Linked DNA regions of Homo sapiens. The protein of the gene in region 1 purifies or fractionates together with the protein of each later gene. This does not show direct contact. Each region holds a gene or a part of one and is shown in the gene's direction. Other genes may lie near its edges.

Region 1 (3,723 bases):
CATTCTAACAGAACTACCTTTCCCCCTGTGTCAGGGCTCAGCACATTAGACTGAAACCAAACAAGGTCTTTTTTTTTTTTTCTTCGAGGTGGAGTCTCGCTCTGTCACCCAGGCTGGAGGGCAATGGCACGATCTCGGCTCACTGCAACCTCCGCCTCCCGGGTTCAAGTGATTCTTCTGCCTCAGCCTCCCGAGTAGCTGGGATTACAGGTGCACACCACCATGTCCAGCTAATTTATGTATCTTTAATAGAGACAGGGTTTCACCATGTTGGTCAGGCTGGTCTCGAACTCCTGACCTCGTGATCCGCCCGCCTCGGCCTCTCAAAGTGCTGGGATTACAGATGCCAGCCACCAAGCCTGGCCCAAACAAGGTCTTTTTAAGCAGGGTGGGGGTTTCATCTAGGGAACTGGGTGCTTAGAAGCTCTCTCAGAAGGGTTGGAGGAGTAGGTTCTTGACTGGAAGGGAGCCCAGGACGACACCGAACCATCCTGTCAGGGGTGCCGCCATGAGGAGGGGGGAGTCAGGAGCCGCTGAGTTCAAGGAAGGTGTGACCGCTGCAACAGTCAAGTGTAGAGCTACACTGTCCCATAGGGTAACCACTGGCCACACATGGCTATTCACAATTAATTAAAATGTAAACAGAATAAAAATTTCAGCTGGGTGTGGTGGCTGACACCTGTAATCCCAGCACTTGGGAGGCTGAGGCAGGTAGATTGTGTGAATCCAGGAGTTTGAGACCAGCCTGGGCAACATGGCAAAACCCCATCTTTACAAAAAATGAAAAAAAAAAAACAAAAATTAGCCGGGCGTGGTGGTGGGCGCCTGTAATGTCAGCTACTTGGGAGGCTGAGCCAGGAGAATCGCTTGAACCCAGGAGGCGGAGGTTGTAGTGAGCTGAGACCGTGCCACTGCACTCCAGCCTGGGCAACAGAGTGAAACTCCATCTCAAAAAAATAAATAAAAATTTAAAAAATAAAAAACAAAAATAAAGTCTTAAAATTCTAGATGCCCTTTGTCCCAGCATTCCCACATCTAGGAAATTATCTAAAGAAGTCGTCTTGGATGAATAAAGCTGTGGGAATTTAGAAGAGGAGTAAGGAGGGATCCCGGGACAGGAGTGACAGGAGGAATGGTTTCTGTTCAGGTTAACATGCTACAGAAATGTAAAGAGGAATGGCTGCCATGGTGTCTGGGGTGGGGGTGTCCCAAAGGGCAGCAGAGGGAGGGGAGAGCCCTCATGCAAAGATTAGACTTGGCCCTGAGGCAAGAGAATGTCCAGATGGACATGGGACCCCAGCTCTGAGCCCTGCCTCTTCTCTCTCCCTTCTCAGGACCCTGCCCGCTCAGCCGGCTTCCACCCCAGTGGCTCTGTCCTGGCTGTGGGTACAGTGACTGGCAGGTAAAGCTGAGGAGAGCATTTCGGGAGGCCTTCTCTGCTCCCTGGGGAACTGGCCCTTCTTCCCTCTTTCCTACTTTCCCAAATCCCACTATTTACCGAGCCCTGATCCCTCAATATTCCTCTGGCTCACTGCAGCCTCTGCCTCCCAGGTTCAAGCGATTTGCCTGCCTCAGCCTCCCGAGTAGCTGGGATTACAGGCGCCCACCACTATGCCTGGCTAATTTTTTTTTATTTTTAGTAGAGACGGGGTTTCACCATGTTGGCCAGGCTGGTCTCGAACTCCTGACCTCAAGTGATTCACCTGCCTCAGCCTCTCAAAGTGCTAGGATTACAGGCGTGAGCCACCGCCACTGTACCTGGCCTTGTTTTGTTTTGTTTTTTGGGGGGACAGAGTCTTGCTCTGTCGCCCAGACTGGAGTCCGGTGGCGCGATCTCAGCTCACTGCAACCTCTGCCTCCCGGGTTCAAGCAATTCTCGTGCCTCAGCCTCCTAAGTAGCTGGGATTACAGGCACGTGCCACCACGCCTGGCTAATTTTTGTATTTTTAGTAGAGACGGGGTTTTGCTATGTTGACCAGGCTGATTTCGAACTCTTGACCTCAAGTGATCCACCCGCCTCGGCCTCCCAGCGTGCTGGGATTATAGGCCTGAGCCACCGTGCCCAGCCCAGGTCACTTCTGGGGTCCCTCTGATCCCTCCCTTAGACCCCACAGATTGCGGCCTCTCTCTGTCAGATCAGCTCACCCCTCCTCCCCCCACCACGCCCTCTCCTTCAAGATGGCTGCTGCTGGACACGGAGACCCATGACCTGGTGGCTATCCACACAGACGGCAATGAACAGATCTCAGTGGTCAGCTTCTCCCCAGGTAAGCGGCAGGCCTGGGACACCCAAGCGGCAGGGCCAGGGGACAGAGGCTCAGAGCTCTTGGCAGGGGGAGGGGTGGAGCCTGCGAAGCGAGGCCTAGGAGGGATGCAGTGGGGATGGAGCTGGGGACTGTTGAGGGGGCTGAGTCTGGGCGAGGAGGGGATGGAGCCTGGGTGCCTCCTCATAGCCCCCCTCCCCCTCCCCCAGACGGGGCGTACCTGGCCGTGGGCTCCCACGACAACTTGGTGTACGTGTACACGGTGGACCAGGGCGGCCGCAAGGTCAGCCGCCTGGGCAAGTGCTCGGTGAGTGGGCAGTGGCCCCCAGCCCGCGCCGCCACCCCGCCCAGGGGGTGCAAAATTAACCAATTTTCTACCTCAAGGGAGCGCAGCTTCAACACTCAACTGATTCTGCCCTGATCAGAGCAAGGAGTCTTGGCCACGTCCACACATTCACCACCTCGTGTGTTCTAAGCCCGCCCCTTTGTGTAGCCCCGCCCCCACGTGCTAAGCCCATCTGTGTAGCCCCGCCCCTCACGTTCCGAGACCGCCCCTCACGTTCCGAGACCGCCCCTCTGTGTAGCCCCGCCCCTCAACATTCAAAGCCAGCTCCTCCGTGTCTAGCCCTGCCCACCTGTTCTAAACTCCCATTGTGTTCTAAGTGCTTTTTGTCTAGCCCTGCCCATCACAGTCTGGCCCCGCCCACAGTATTCTGGCCCTGCCCCCATACTCCAAAGGCCTGTGTATCCTTCCTTTAGTCCCCTTGTGTTCTCGCCCTACCTCTGTATTTGACTTCCACTTTCCTGATTTAATCCTGTCCCCCTCTCCTTGGTTCCGCCCTCTGCAGCTCTAACACCATCCCTTCCCTCCCCCGCAGGGCCATTCCAGTTTTATCACCCACCTGGATTGGGCCCAGGACAGCAGCTGCTTTGTCACCAACTCCGGGGACTATGAGATTCTGTACTGTGAGTTCTCCGGGACCCAGAGACATTACTTCCTCCGTCTCATTTGCAGACTTCCCTGAGTTCTGGGAGGGGAGGGAGGGGCTTCAAGCCTCGCTCCCTTGGTATTCAAGGCTGGTTCTGATTTGGAATTTAGGGACCGCTGGCTTCTCATTTTCTCCCTGGTATACCCCACTTTTAGTCAACTCCTCCCCTTTCCGGTCGGATGGGTAGGATGCAGGTTTCTTTTTTTACATTTTTAAATTTTTAATTATTATTATTATTATTATTATTATTATTATTATTTTGAGACGGAGTCTTGCTCTGTCCCCCAGGCTGGAGTGCAGTGGCGCGATCTCGGCTCACTGCAAGCTCCGCCTCCCAGGTTCAAGTGATTCTTCTGCCTCAGCCTCCTGAGTAGCTGGGATTACAGGAGCACACCACCATGCCCGGCTAATATTTGTATTTGTATTTTTTTTTTTTTGAGATGGGAGTTTCCCTCTTGTCTCCTAGGCTG
Region 2 (3,500 bases), on another chromosome or scaffold:
TGCAGCCTTGACATCCCTGGCTCAAGAGATCCTCCCTCCTCAGCCTCCTTAGTAGCTGCGATTTACAGACACATGCCACCATGCACAGCTAATTTTTTTTTTTTTTTGAGATGGAGTTTCGCTCTTGTTGCCCACGCTGCAGTGCAATGGCGCCATCTCGGTTCACCACAACTTGCACCTCCCGGGTTCAAGCAATTCTCCTGCCTCAGCCTCCCGAGTAGCTGGGACTACAGGTGTCCACCACCACACCCAGCTAAATTTTGTGTTTTTAGTAGAGACGGGGTTTCACCATGTTGGTCAGGCTGGTCTCAAACTCCTGACCTCAGGTAATTCACCTGCCTCAGCCTCCCAGAGTGCTGGGATTATAGGCGTGAGCCACTGCACCTGGCCACAGCTAATTTTTAAAATAATTTTTGTAGAGATTGAGTCACTGTGTTGCCCAGGCTGGTCTTGAACCTCTGGTCTTGTGTGATCCCTCTTCAGCCTTCCAAACTGCTGAGATTACAGGCGTGAACCACTGTGCCAGGCTGAAATTGGTCATCTTAAGATAAAGACAGTGCTGTTATTACCCATTCCCAGTTTCACAGTTTACAAGGCTGTTTGATGGTAGCAACTATTCTCCTTTTATACAAACAGCCTGGACTGGATGCCTCTTGGGCTTGTCTATGTGAATCCTTTATGATTAGTCTGATGAAGATTCTTTGGAGCAAATTTATCTTTTTCTAAGGTACATCCTTTAATGACCCTTTTATCTCAGGGAGAAAGAGAGTAATGATAATAACAGTAACAAAATAAATATTAACTACTATGTACCAGGCACTGTTAGGCATTACAATTGTTTGTGCATTCACTCATCGAACCTTTGCAACATCACTAAGAGGTAGGAGCCCCATTCCCGATTTATAGATAAGTAGGTTGAGATTTGTAGCTTTACCGAGGTCACACAATAAGTCCCAGAGTTGGAACTTGCCAGCTGGTCTCCAAAGCTGGGGTTGTTAACCAAACCAATATCTACCTGTGAGGATTGGGCTGTCTTTTGATGCAGGAAGTAGGGCTTAGAGAGGGCCAGTGTCATTCTGGGTTAACTGTCCTGTTTCGGCTTGGTCTTCTGTCCTTCAGGGAAGCTTGTGGGCTGTGCCATCATCCATGTCAATGGAGACAGCCCAGAGGAAGTGGTCCGTGCCACACGACTGGCTTTTGAATACCAACGCCAGTTCCGCAAGGATGTGATTATTGATCTGTTGTGCTACAGGCAGTGGGGCCACAATGAGCTGGATGAGCCATTCTACACCAACCCCATCATGTACAAAATCATCAGGTACAATTATAAACCCTTGTGTGATATGCCCCCTAAAAATTAAAATTACTATTATTATTCTTTTGAGATGGAGTCTTGCTTTGTCACCCAGTCTGGAATGCAGTAGCACGATCTTGGCTCACTGCCATCTCCACCTCCCGGGTTCAAATGATCCTCCTGCCTCAAGTGATCCTCTTGCCTCAACCTCCCGAGTAGCTGGGATTACAGGCGTGTGCCACCGTGCCTGGCTAGTTTTCATACTTTTTAGTAGAGATGGAGTTTTGCCATGTTGGCCAGGCTGATGTCAAACTCCTGACCTCAGGTGATCTGCCTGCCTCGCCCTCCCAAAGTGCTGGGATTACAGGCATGAGCCACCATGCCCAGGCAGGACATGAAACTTTAAGAGCTAAAGCTGACACAGTTCTGGGCTGGAGTGCAGGTGGCACAGTCTTGGCTCACTGCAACCTCTGCCTCCTGGGTTCAAGCAATTGCAATTCTTGTGCCTCAGCTTCCTGAGTAGCTGGGATTACAGGTATGCATCACCACGCCTGGCTAATCTTTGTATTTTTAGTACAGACAGGGGTTTCGCCATGTTGGCTAGGCTGGTCTCAAACTCCCGGTCTCAAGTGATCCACCTGCCTTAGCCTCCCAAAGTGCTAGGATTACAGGCATGAGCCACCGTGCCTGGCCTCCCATACTCTTCACACTTGACATGGTTCCTCATTGAATAGAAAAAGGGCAATAGAAAACTCAGCAGATGGGAAGATTGAAGCAGGGGGAATTAAGCAAACCTCGCCCAAATCTATTTACTGCAGTGTCGGCAGGACCAGAAATAGAACCTCAGTGATTCATTTCTACAAACCATAGCTGCAGACCTGCCTGGCACCTTGGTGAGAGGTAACTCAGAAGATTCTAATGAATGTTCAGAACCATGCTGTCCAAGATGGAAGCCACTAGCCATCAGTGGCTATTGAGTACTTGAAAAGTGGCCAGTCCTGATTAATGTGCTGTAAGGATAATACACACACCATATTTCAAACACTTAGCATGTAAAATATAAACCCAAAATAATATTTTTAAATTTATTAGATATGGAAATGACAATATAATGAGTATATTGACTTAAATAAAATATGTTATTGAAATGCCGGGCATGGTGGCTTATGCCTGTAATCCCAGCACTTTGGGAGGCCAAGGTGGGTGGATCACTTGAGGTCAGGAGTTTGAGACCGGCCTGGCCAACATGGTGAAACCCCATCTCTACTAAAAATAGAAAAATTTGGCCAGGCGCGGTGGCTCACGCCTGTAATCCCAGCACTTTGGGAGGCCGAGGCGGGCGGATCACGAGGTCAGGAGATCGAGACCATCCTGACTAACACGGTGAAACCGCGTCTCTACTAAAAATACAAAAAATTAGCCGGGCGTGGTGGCGGGCGCCTGTAGTCCCAGCTACTCGGGAGGCTGAGGCAGGAGAATGGCGTGAACCCGGGAGGCGGAGCTTGCAGTGAGCCCAGATCGCACCACTGCACTCCAGCCTGGGTGGCATAGCGAGACTCCGTCTCAAAAAAAAAAAAAAAAAAAAAGAAAAGAAAAGAAAAGAAAAAGAAAAATTAGCTGGCGTTGTGGCGCGTGCCTGTAGTCCCAGCTACTCGGGAGGCTGAGGCAACAGAATCGCTTGAACTGGGGAGGCGGAGGTTGCAGTGAGCTGAGATTGTGCCACTGCATTCCAGCCTGGGCGACAGAGCGAGACTCGGTCTCAAAGAAAAAACAAGAAGAAAAGAAATTAATTTCACCTGTTTCTTTTTATCTTTTCTAACGTGACTGCCAGAAAATTTTAAATTACTCATGGCTTGCATTTCATTTCTGTCCCATGGTGCTGATTCAGATGGTTAATGTGACGGAGGGGGAATTTGTTACTTTGGAACTTCCTTTTCTAGATACTAGAAAATAAAATAGATTCCCCTCCTCCAAGTTTATTTCCTTATAGATATAAATTAAAGCAGAGGAATACACGTTTTATGAGCGTTTCTGATCCTTGGTACCAGAAAGAGGACTGCTCTCAGAAGAACTAATTGTGTTCTGTTTAGCTCTGAATTTAGCAGCTGAATGACTCAGTGAACCTCAGGGTTCTATTTTATTTTATTTATTTTTTTGAGACACGGTCTTGCTCTGTCGCCCAGGCTGTAGTGCAGTGGTATGATCA
Region 3 (3,723 bases), on another chromosome or scaffold:
CGGGCAGGCAGGAAGTGGTGCTAATTGTCAGTGTTTTGAGTCAGAGCCCCGCCCCCCCACTTGCTCCACCCCGTTCAGCCCAGGCCCCTCTTGCCCCTTAGAGACCTGCCGTCGCCTGCCCCGGCAGCCTGACTGATCTGCTTTATCTGGAATCCTCTTCCCCGCACCCTGCGTAGGCTTTATCTATTAACCCGACAGACGCATGGTCGGTGCACACCGTCGCTCACATCCACGAGATGAAAGCAGAGATCAAGGATGGGTTGGAATTCATGCAGCACTCAGAGACCTTCTGGAAGGTATGATGCTTGTCAATGGGTCACCTCCCTGGGAAATTCAGTGCATCCCCTTGAGTCAGGCCAAGGCTTTATGGACAAGAGTTACAGGGCATGGCTTAATTCTCGGGGTTCCCTCTCCTCCTCCACCTGCACCTGCCTCAGGTGTTTGGCTGCTGAGCAGAATGCAATCAAGATTCCAGTCCCCACCCCAGGCCCATACCTTGCCCTAGGGACTCCACTGAGGGTCCAGCCCAGACTTCTCTGTCCTTACAGGGCCTGGTCAGGAGGAGCGAGCAGCCTCTTCAAAGCACATGAGCTGCACCATGACGGGGACCCTCTGTGGGATGTGGAAACGCAGAGGAAGCATTAAACTCAACTGGGCTTGGGGGGACAGTGGCTAGGGAAGGCATCCTGGAGGGGGCAACCTCTGAGTTGGCTACTGAAGGATGAGCAGGTGTGTGCCACACAGAGGGGGAAGATGGAGGGCATCCTAGCCCGTCACTAGCTTGAGCAAGGCCTCCAAGGCCTACAGTGGCCTGTGAGGGAGAGGAGAGCTGCTTACTTTGGTGTCCTAGAGCCCAGGTACAAGGCGGACATGGGCTGTGCAGGAGGCCTTGTCAGTCCCTCTTTCCAGGGGAGGCAAGGTGGTGTCCAGGCAGAGGCAGAAACGCCTGCAGAGGCCTCAGGGAAGGAAAGGCTAGCACCATGGTGGAGGTGGGCCCTCTGGACAGACGGGGCTGCATCAGGTGAGCCTATTGGGCTCAAGGGAGATGGGGCCTCCCCTGGGACAGGGACACAGCGTCGCTCACTCAGCGTTTACTGAATACCTGCTTTGTATTTGGGGCAGCAAGAAATCAGGGAAGGGTGTGCACTTGGCTCCCAAGCAGGGGCCATGCAGTCTGAGCCTTGCTGCGGAGGATCCTCGGGCCTCCAGATTCGGCTCTGTCAAGGGGGCAGTGGTCAGGTTCCCTTCTCAGGGACACTGAGGTTTGTTTGAGGTTTCTGAGTGCTGGGCACTCTAGCTTGTTGAGGATCACGAGTCCAGTCTCCTGAGCTTGGAAATACCCTAGCAGGGGCCAGCTCTGAGCCCAGCACAGGTCCTACTTTAACACTGCTTCATACTGAGGGCAGCCTAAGGTAGCCACCCACATACCACCCACTCCCCTGGCTCTCGGGGCTTTGCCAGCACCTGTTGGAGTGTGGCCCTGGGCCTGTTGATCTCTGCAGGTTTTTGTTTTTGTTTTTTTTTGAGACAAGTTCTCTCTCTGTCGCCCAAGGTGGAGTGCAGTGGCACAATCAGGGCTCACCGCAGCCTCGACCGCCTGGGCTCAAGCGATCCTTCCACCTCGGCCTCCCAAATAGCAGGGACTACTGGTGCGTGCCACCACACCTGGCTAATTAAAAAAATTTTTTTTTTTTAGAGAGACAGGGTCTCTTCCCTATGTTGCCCAGGTGGGTCTTGGACTCTTGGGCTCAGTTGATCCTTCTGCCTCGGCCTCCCAAAGTACTGGGATTACAGGCATGAGCCACTGTGCCCGGCTGATCCTTGCAGTTTTATCCAAGTGCCCTGAGCTGTTTAGGCACCCATGGGCCTCGCACCTCCCTGTGGAGTGGTTCTGTTAATCCTTTTCTCAACTTCACATGTGAGGAAGGCAAAGCTGGAGTTGCTGAAGTAACTTCCTCTGCACCGGTCCTGGGGCTGCTGCTCCCCAGCTCAGGCGAGTAGGTTGGGAACCTCCCCTAGCCTCAGTTTCCTCCTTGGTAAATGCAGCATAATTTCTTCACCGCCCTTCGGAATGGAAGAAGATTATGTGGCCTGGAGGCACCTAGTGCAGAATATTGTTTCCTGCACTCAAAGATGATGGTTTCTGTGGCTAGGCGCGGTGGCTCATGCCTGTAATCCCAGCACTTTGGGAGGCTGAGGCGGGCGGATCACCTGAGGTCAGAAGTTCGAGACCACCCTGGCCAACATGGTGAAACCCTGTCTCTACCAAAGATACAAAAATTAGCCGGGTGTGGTGGTGCACACTTGTAATCCCAGCTACTCAGGAGACTGAGGCAGGAGAATTGCTTGAACCCGGGAGGCAGAGGTTGCAGTGAGCCAAGATCGTGTCACTACACTCCAGCCTGAGCAACAGAGCCAGACTTAGTCTCAAAAAAAAAAAAAAAAAAAAAAAAAAAGATGATGGTTTCTGCATTAGCACAAAACAACATTTGTTTTTTTCCCATAGGCCTTCAGACTTTTCATAAATTCTCTTTTTTTTTTTTTCTCCAGGACTCTGATATGTTGGCTTGTCATAACTATTGGCACTGGGCTTTATATCTGATTGAGAAGGTAAGGTGACCATCTGTTTGCACTGTCTTATCCTATAAAGATGTCTAGAGGGAGAAAGATTTTTCTAGCTTTTGCTATGTATTCACATCCGTTGGAGCCCTGATGCAATGGAGCATTAACATTTCCAAAGAGCACTCTAGGCTTCAACCTTTTTAGGGATTTTTTCACTGTGGAGGCCTGGAAATCACATCTGTGGTGTATAACTTGCAGAGACCATTCAGAGCGAGTGCCTGTGGCTGGAGTGGAGAGCCAAGCCCCAACTCCGCAGGGTGTACCTGCCTGGGCCATGAGATCTTCCAACGGGAGCCAGGCTATGGGGCAGCTGCTCAGGACACCCTTGACCCCAGTGATTCCGCCACAGGGTTCCATGTACAAGACTGTCACTTGCAGTGCTCCTTATCGTGCACAAAAGCTAGAAGCTCCCTGAATGTCCATAAAGTGAGAAATGCTGAGAACATGAGGGCCTTGTCATGACATGAGAATGTGATGATACAGTGTCTGGAAGACAGCACAGAACCCAGCTAAATGTACAGGAGAGGAAACATATGCAGAAAAGAAAAAGGCAGCTGGGCACAGTGGCTCATGCCTGTAATCCCAGCACTTTGAGAGGCCAAGGCAGGCAAATAACTTGAGGTCAAGAGTTTGAGAGCAGCCTGGGCAACATGGTAAAACCCCATCTCTACTAAAAATACAAAAATTAGCCGGGCATGGTGGCGCCTCCCTGTAGTCCTGAGCCTGAGGCATGAGAATCGCTTGAACCTGGGACGCGGAGGTTACAGTGAGCCGAGATTGTGCCACTGCACTCCAGCCTGGGTGACAGAGTGAGACCCCATCTCAAAAAAAAAAAAAAAAAAAAAAGAAAAAGGCTAGAAAGAAATACATGAAAAAGCTTGCAGCAGTTAGTATGAGCAATACCTATATTAACTTTCCACTAGGAGAGAGAATGCTTCCACAGCAACTGTTTCTTCAGTGGTGGCGGCACAGGTGCTGCTGTGCTTTCTACACTGGGGAACCAAAGCCCCGGTTGGAAGCGGGTTCACCTTCTCCCATCCCGAATGCCACCAAGACACCGTCCGTCCACCTCTGAGAGGAGGTGGAGGCCGGAGACCATGT

Evidence for each region.
Region 2: the proteins of EML2 (region 1) and DHTKD1 fractionate together in Homo sapiens (co-fractionation; one large-scale study listed by BioGRID). This does not show direct contact.
Region 3: the proteins of EML2 (region 1) and TTC38 fractionate together in Homo sapiens (co-fractionation; one large-scale study listed by BioGRID). This does not show direct contact.

What each region holds. Positions count from the first base shown.
Region 1 is NC_000019.10:45,615,309-45,619,031, reverse strand, and holds part of EML2 (echinoderm microtubule-associated protein-like 2), read left to right. Parts: intron 1-1,334; coding exon 1,335-1,402; intron 1,403-2,178; coding exon 2,179-2,267; intron 2,268-2,473; coding exon 2,474-2,571; intron 2,572-3,142; coding exon 3,143-3,230; intron 3,231-3,723. UniProt on the Homo sapiens protein: Tubulin binding protein that inhibits microtubule nucleation and growth, resulting in shorter microtubules.
Region 2 is NC_000010.11:12,092,954-12,096,453, forward strand, and holds part of DHTKD1 (2-oxoadipate dehydrogenase complex component E1), read left to right. Parts: intron 1-1,119; coding exon 1,120-1,318; intron 1,319-3,500. UniProt on the Homo sapiens protein: 2-oxoadipate dehydrogenase (E1a) component of the 2-oxoadipate dehydrogenase complex (OADHC). Participates in the first step, rate limiting for the overall conversion of 2-oxoadipate (alpha-ketoadipate) to glutaryl-CoA and CO(2) catalyzed by the whole OADHC.
Region 3 is NC_000022.11:46,281,423-46,285,145, forward strand, and holds part of TTC38 (tetratricopeptide repeat protein 38), read left to right. Parts: exon of another isoform or gene 1-176; coding exon 177-296; intron 297-548; coding exon of another isoform or gene 549-590; exon of another isoform or gene 591-727; intron 728-2,550; coding exon 2,551-2,610; intron 2,611-3,723.